Linked DNA regions of Homo sapiens. The protein of the gene in region 2 interacts with the protein of the main gene of each other region in a pairwise test. Each region holds a gene or a part of one and is shown on either strand. Other genes may lie near its edges.

Region 1 (3,754 bases), about 20 Mb from region 2:
TACCACACCCAGCTAATTTTGTGTATTTTTAGTAGAGACAGGGTTTCACCATGTTAGTCAGGATGGTCTCGATCTCCTGAACTCGTGATCCGCCTGCTTCGGCCTCCCCAAATGTTGTGATTACAGGCATGAGCCACCGTGCCCCGCCTCTTTTTTATTTTTAAAAATATCCTCCTTTTTGCCTACTCTTTAAGACATTATTTGTTATGTTTATTCATCCTTGTATCTCTTATAGTGTAATTTTATTTTATGAAATGATTTTTAAAATGTCTAATTCTTTCCTGAGTTCTATTACCTTATTTTTGTGATTTTCAATTTTTTTTCTGTTGCTCTTTCACATCTTATATCGTTTTTTAAAAATGTCTAGCTCATTTGAGTTTTTTGCAGGGGGAGGAGAAGACAAAGTCTCACTCTGTCACCCAGGCTGGAGTGCAGTGGCACAGTGCTCACTGCAACCTCCGCCTCTCAGGTTTTAGCGTTCCTCCCTCCTCACCCTCCTGAGTAGGTGGGCTTACAGGCGGATGCTGCCAGGCCCAACTAATTTTCATGTTTTTAGTAGAGACAAGGTTTCACCATGTTGGCCAGGCTAGTCTGGAACTCCTGACCTCAAGTGATCTGCTTGCCTCAGCCTCCCAAAGTGCTGGGATTATGAGCGTGAGCCACCACGCCTGGCCATTTAGCTCATTTTGAAATGGTAGGCTCACACCCATAATCCCAGCACTTTGGGAGGTTGAGGTGAGCAGACCACTTGAGGTCAGGAGTTCCAGACTAGCATGGCCAACATGGTGAAATCCCGTCTCTACTAAAAACACAATTTAGCTGGGCCTAGCAGCATCTGCCTGTAATCCCAGGTACTCTGGAGGCTGAGGCAGGAGGATCGATTGAATCCTGGAGGCGGAGGTTGCAGTGAGCCAAGATTGCACCACTGCACTTCAGCCTGAGTGACAGAGCAGGACTCTGTCTTCAAAAAAAAAAAAGTAGATTATAATGGTCATATCTTTCTGGCATACATTATCTGAGATTTATCATTTTGCAGTTTTTTTTTTGTACAATAGATACTTTTCTTTCTCTTCTTTTCTTTTCTTTCAAGGCAGGGTCTCACTCTGTGACCCAGGCTAGAGTGCCATGGTGTGATCACAGCTCACTGCAGCTTTAAGCAATCCTCCCACCTTAGCCTCCAAAGTAGCTGGGACCACAGGCATACACCACCATGCCTGGTTTATTTTTTTTGTAGACAAAGTCACACTATGATGCCCAGGCTGGTTTTGAACTCCTGGGCTCAAGTAATCCTCCTGCCTTTGCCTTCCAAAGTGCTGGGATTACAGGCGTGAGCCACCACGCACAGTCAGTTATAATCCTTTTTATGTTGCCCATTTTTATGTGAAAATTATTTTCCTAAACTTAAAGAAAATATACTTGGGATAACTTTTCTTATATAGGGCTCCCTCTTCTGTTGTTTTGTATAATATTCCCCAAAAAGTGGCTTTTTTCAGAGATCTCCTGGCTCTTCTCTTCTGCTTTTTTCTGGTGCCTCTCTCTCTCCCCTCATCCTGCTCAATTTGGATTGTGTTCCCAAGATTTCTTCTCACTGTGGGACTTTGCACTGAAAGAAAGCTTTGGCTGGTTAGTTTTAAGAGGTCTTAGTGTCTAGATTACTCCAACCTCTTATGATTTTACAAAGAACTGCTTGTATTCACTTAGTATTAGAATGTATAACCCCTTATAGTTTCAGCTGCTTTTCTCCAGCATCTTGCTGTGCAGTCCAGTGAGTACCTTTTGGCTGTTTGGGTTTATTTTTTTTCTGGTTCATCAGATCAATTGTAGCTTTCCTCTGCCTTCTTACACATAGATGCCAATATAGTGCAAATCTTACAACTATTGATAGTTTGGCACTATAGGTTTTTTTTCGTATGTGTGTGTGTATGATGGAGTCACACTCTGTTGCCCAGGCTGGAGTGCAGTGGCACGATCTCGGCTCACTGCAACCTCCGCCTCCCAGGTTCAAGTGATTCTCCTGCCTCAGCCTCCCCAAATAGCTGGGACTACAGGTGCACAGCACCATGCCTGGCTAATTTTTTGTATTTTTTAGTAGAGACGGGATTTCACCATGTTGGCCAGGCTGGTCTCAAACTCCTGACCTGAAGTGGTCCACCCACCTCTGCCTCCCAAATTGCTGGGATTACAGGCGTGAGCCACCACGCCTGGCCTAGTTTTTGTTTTTTAAGTGGCTTATTTTTACTTTATAAATGCTTACTTACAATAAGGAAATAATGGTCTTTTTATGCCACAAACACTTCAGTAGCTATATAGAGATACATTAATTTTATTAGACTATAACAGCATCTCGGTCTTCTTTTTTTAATGACATAAAATTGTATGTATCATGTACAACGTGTTTTAAAGTATATATACATAATGGAATGATTAAATCTAGTTAATGAACAAATGCATTATTTTACATAGTTATTTTTTGTGATGAGAGTGCTTAACATTCACTCCCTATGTTTTTCAAGAATCCAATATATCATCATTAACTAGAATCACCATGTTGTGCAGTAGATCTCTTGAACTTATTCTTTCTATCTAACTGTAATTAGGCATCTTTTGGCTTTGGCCAATGTCTCCCCAAACTCCTCTCTCCTCTAACGCCCCCACCCAGCCTCTGGTAACACCATTCTTCTCTCTACTTCTGTGACATCAACACTTTTTAGAATTCACATATGAGTGAGATCATGCTGTATTTGTCTTTCTGGACCTGGCTTATTATAACACTTAACATGATGCCCTACAGGTTCATCTGTGTTGAAAATGACAGGATTTGCTCCTTTCAGTGGCTGAATAGTATTCCATTGTGTATATATATATCATATTTTCTTTTTTTACTCATCTGTGTTTTTTGTTTTTTTTTTACTTTTTACACATCTGTTTTTTAATTTTTTTTTTAAGCTAACATGCAAGAAATGAACACTTATCTGTTAATAGATACTTAGGTTGATTCCATATCTTGTATATTGTGAATAGTGCTGCAACAAACGTGGGCCTACAGGTATCTCTTCATCATACTGATTTCATTTCCTTTGGATATATACCCAGTAGTGGGATTGCTGGTAGTTCTTTTTTAAAAATTTTTTTTAAGGGGCCTCCATACTACTTTCCATAATGGCTTTACTAATTTATATTCCCACCAACAATGTGTACGGATTCCCTTTTCTTTATGTCTTTTGTCTGTTTGATGATAGCTATTGTAATAGGTATGAGGTGATACCTCATTGTGGTTTTGGTTTTTCATTTTCCTGTTGATTAGCGATATTGAGCATTTCTCATATACTGTTGGCTATTTTTATGTGTTCTTTTGAGAAATGTTTGTTCAGGTCTTTTGCCCATTTTTTAATTGGGCTATTTGTTTCCTTGCTATAAAGTTATTTGAGCTCTTTTTTTCTTTTTTCTTTTTCTTTTTTTTTTTTTTTTTTTGAGACAGGGTCTCGTTCTGTTGCCAAGGTTGTAGTGCAGTGGTGTAAACATGGCTCACTGCAGCCTTGAATTCATAGGGTCAAGTGATCCTGGAACTACAGATGCATGCCACCACACCAGCTAATTTTTAAATTTTTTTGTAGAGAGAGGATCTTGCCATGTTGCCCAGGCTGGTCTCGGACTCCTGGGCTCAAGCAGTCCTCCCACCTCTGCCTCCCAAAGTTCTGGGATTACAGATGTGAGCTACCACACCCAGCCAAATTGAGTTCCTTATATATCTTGT
Region 2 (3,754 bases):
CCTGCCTCAGCCTCCTGAGTAACTGGGATTACAGGCGCATGCCACTGCACCTGGCTAATTTTTGTATTTTTAGTAGAGATGGGGTTTCACCATGTTGGTCAGGCTGGTCTCGAACTCCTGACCTCATAATCTGCTCTCCTCGGCCTCCCAAAGTGCTGGGATTACAGGTGTGAGCAACTGCGCCTGGCCCTACCCAAGTCTATCTTAAAAAAAAAAAAAAATCTCTTTCCTCGCTTCATGTTTCCTTCCAGCTATGCTGTCTTATTTCTCTACTTTTTTCTCTACCAAATTTGTTGCAGGCATCATCTGAATGACTGTTTCCACTTCATTCAGTCTCATTCACCACCGTACGTACCATGGGACACCTAGAACCCCATCACACCATGAAAACTCTTCCTGCCAACGCTTGCTGAATCTACTGACTGCTTCTCAGACTGTATCTAGCTTGACCTCTGGGCAGCACTAGACACAGTGACCACTTCCTTCTTGAAATAATCTCTTCCTGGTCTTTTGTAGTGCTGCAAAATTCTTCTGTCTTTCTGGCTCTTTCACAGGCCTCTTGGTGTATGCTATCCTATAAGCAGGTCTAGTCATTTTCAGCTGTATTACTATTAAATGCTTGTCTTAATGAACTACTTCCAATTACTCAAGTAAACTTTCTTAATTCTAGGCCTTCATTCCTGTGGTTCCCTCTTGCTGAAATTCTCTTCTCCTTCCTCTCCTTCCTTCCCTTGCTTAGCTGCCCTCTCCTCTACCTCCCATGTCAGCTAAGAAGCCTCTTCCTCCCACAGCTCTTCCCTTCCCTCCTCAGGGCCGGCAAAGGCACCCCTCCTGGGTCCTTCATGACCCCTCTGCTTTCTCTATCATGTAACTTATCACACTACATCATAATCATCATCATTATGTTTTCTTGGCTCAAACTTCCCCTTGACGGCATGTTCTGTGAAGTCACGATTATATCTGCTTTTAGCACATAGCATAGCCTGAGTCACATAACAAGTGAATGAATGAATGAAGATGACATTATTGCTATGTTGGATTGAAGGTGAGTATACCTTATATGAAGTTTTCAATGCTACATATTGTTAGCTATGTGAAATCGGGCAAGTCACTTTTCTTAGCATTGGTTTCCTCATCTGTAAGATGAGAAGTAAAGCAAGGCTCCTGGGAGCACTTTGCAGAAGTTATCTCTACTCATCCGCACAAAGACCCAACAGAGCTGAAACCTGGATTTAAGGAGGTGATGCCTGTACCTCATCTAGCACAGGGCCAGACAGTTTCCTTAGCAAGGCTATCTTTACAAGTACCATGAAGGAAGGCAGAAAGATAATATTCTTTCCTTGTTCATAACTGCATTCACCTTGCTCATAAGCACCTGTTTCTGTTTGGTTAAAAATTAAAATCTGACACAAACAACCTTAAACTCTCCCATTAGAAGAATATAGTCTCTTCTGGTTTAAAACCAACAACAGGCTCTTCTGAGTTGCTTTTCCAAGTCACTTTCCAGTTATTCTTTTAGACAAATTCACAGTCTTTTAGGGCCCCCTCATTCTCCTCCTCATTCACTGAATACAGTGGAAAATGTGGTAAGATGGAGGCAGAGAGGGAACCTCTGGCCTACGGACCCTCAGGTCCTCCCTGTGTCCATTGATAGTGAAATCGTGGACTGGTCACTGCTCAGAGTCCCCCCCTTGCTAAACCAGCCCTTCACTTAGTTCTCAAGGGCACTGGGTCTCCTTCAAGGAGAAAACCTCCTCCAAGAGCACTGAGGCTTCCACAGCTCCAGCTGTTTTTCCCTCCAACCTCTGCCTGTAGCCTCTGCCTCAGGGGTCCCTCCTACAAGCAGTGGGGATCTCCTGGCAGGCAGGCTGGCTGTCTAATCCGAGTTCCCTCTAGAGTCTGTGGAGACTTCTGGATCTTCTCCATGGAGAGGACAGAGTGAGGGAGGGGTGACAGAGTTTCCTTGAGAGATTTCATGGGCAAGGATTTTATGATTTTGTTCTCTGACTTACTATGGTTCAACTTATGATTTTTCGACTTTAGGGTGGTGTGAAAGTGATATATATATTCAGTGGAAACAGTACTTCAAATTTTGCATTTGGATCTTTTCCCAGGCTAGCAATATGTGATGTGATACTCTCTTGCAATGCTGGGCCAAATAATCTAACACAATGTCTGTTTTATAATAAAGTGCTGAATAGCTCATGTAATTTACTAAATACTGTACCAAAAGTGTTCTGAGCACATTTAGGGTAGGCTCGGCTGAGCTGTGATGTTCAGTAGGTTAGGTTTATTAAGTGCATTTTTGACTCTTGGTATTTTCAATCTATGATGGGTTTTTCAGGACATACCTCCATCATAAGTTCAGAAGCATCTGTACTTTGTTACATTAGTAGTTGTTTTAAAAGACATGGCTGAATTGAACGAATGATTCTCAGTCCATCTCTGCCTAAACATTGCCGTGTCATTGTTTCATTTTGATTTTCAGTTTATCTCGGGTTTCTATTCCCTTCCTCCAGAGTTTTGAATCCAATGTAGGAATGGGAGCAGGAGGTGCCCTGAGCAGACCTCTCATTTGAGTCTAAATTACGTTACTCTCATCTTCTTTTTTGATACAGGAAAATTTTATTTTCCACCTGCCTGACAGGAAGTAACCTTACATTATATTCTACTTTCTCTATGCTTTGTGGTTTAGAGTTAAGGTAATCATGTGTCCTGGGTTTTGCCTGTGGTGGTCATGGTTTATAATTATTGTCTGCATGTAATTAACAGTAATGCAGCCTTCACTCTCAACATGACCTGACTTGGATAAGTCTCAACCTCTAGGGTTCAGGTGATCCTCCCACCTCAACTTCCCGAATCGCTGGACACATGCCACCACAGCTGGCTAATTTTTGTATTTTTTGTAGAGATAGGGTTTTGCCATGTTGCCCAGGCTGGTCTCGAACTCCTGGGCTCAAGCAGTCTGTTCACCTCAGCCTCCCAAATGTTGAGACTACAGGTATGAACAACTGCACCCGGCCATTCCTACTTTTTAAAATGACTTTAAGCTCAGGCTTCCAAACTTAAATCTCCTTGTGACTTCAAGCTTAGTGTTGGGAGTCACCCGGAAACCTTTCTCTTAAGTTCCTGGCTCTTGCAAGTAAAGATGTGGCTTTTTTGATACTGTTCTAGTATAGACATTAAAATATGTATTTTGAAAGACAAAGATATACAATGACTTTTTTATTCAGAGAAATGAAAACATTTCAAGAAAGTAAAAGTAAGCATTGAATATATCAACAGCATGGCACCAGCAATCCATCAAATGACCCTGGCCAGTGCACGGTCCTGGTGGATAGTGGTGGACGTCAGATGCCCAGGTCATCCTGTCACCTAGAATTAAGAGTTGTTGGCCGGGCGTGGTGGCTCACGCCTGTAATCCCAGCACTTTGGGAGGCCGAGGCGGGTGGATCACAAGGTCAAGAGATCAAGACCATCCTGGCCAACATGGTGAAACCCTGTCTCTATTAAAAGTACAAAAATTAGCGAGGCGTAGTGGCGCACGCCTGTAATCCCAGCTATTTGGGAGGCTGAGGCAGGAGAATTGCTTGAACCCGGGAGGCACAGGTTGCAGTGAGTCGGAACTGTGCCACTGCACTCCAGCGTGGCGACAGAGCAAGACTCCATGCCCCCCACCCAAAAAAAAAAAAAAAAAGAGTTGTTAACATTTTGTTCTTCTGGGGGATTTTAGAAAAGAAATAAAAGATTATTG

What was found. Proteins that work in one complex are often made in the same cells at the same time.
Region 1: the proteins of RGS8 (region 2) and UHMK1 interact in binary tests that used the Homo sapiens proteins (3 or more experiments, as listed by UniProt).

The regions. Positions count from the first base shown.
Region 1 is NC_000001.11:162,507,738-162,511,491, forward strand, and holds part of UHMK1 (serine/threonine-protein kinase Kist), read left to right. Parts: intron 1-3,754. UniProt on the Homo sapiens protein: Upon serum stimulation, phosphorylates CDKN1B/p27Kip1, thus controlling CDKN1B subcellular location and cell cycle progression in G1 phase. May be involved in trafficking and/or processing of RNA.
Region 2 is NC_000001.11:182,649,849-182,653,602, reverse strand, and holds part of RGS8 (regulator of G-protein signaling 8), read left to right. Parts: intron 1-3,754. UniProt on the Homo sapiens protein: Regulates G protein-coupled receptor signaling cascades, including signaling via muscarinic acetylcholine receptor CHRM2 and dopamine receptor DRD2.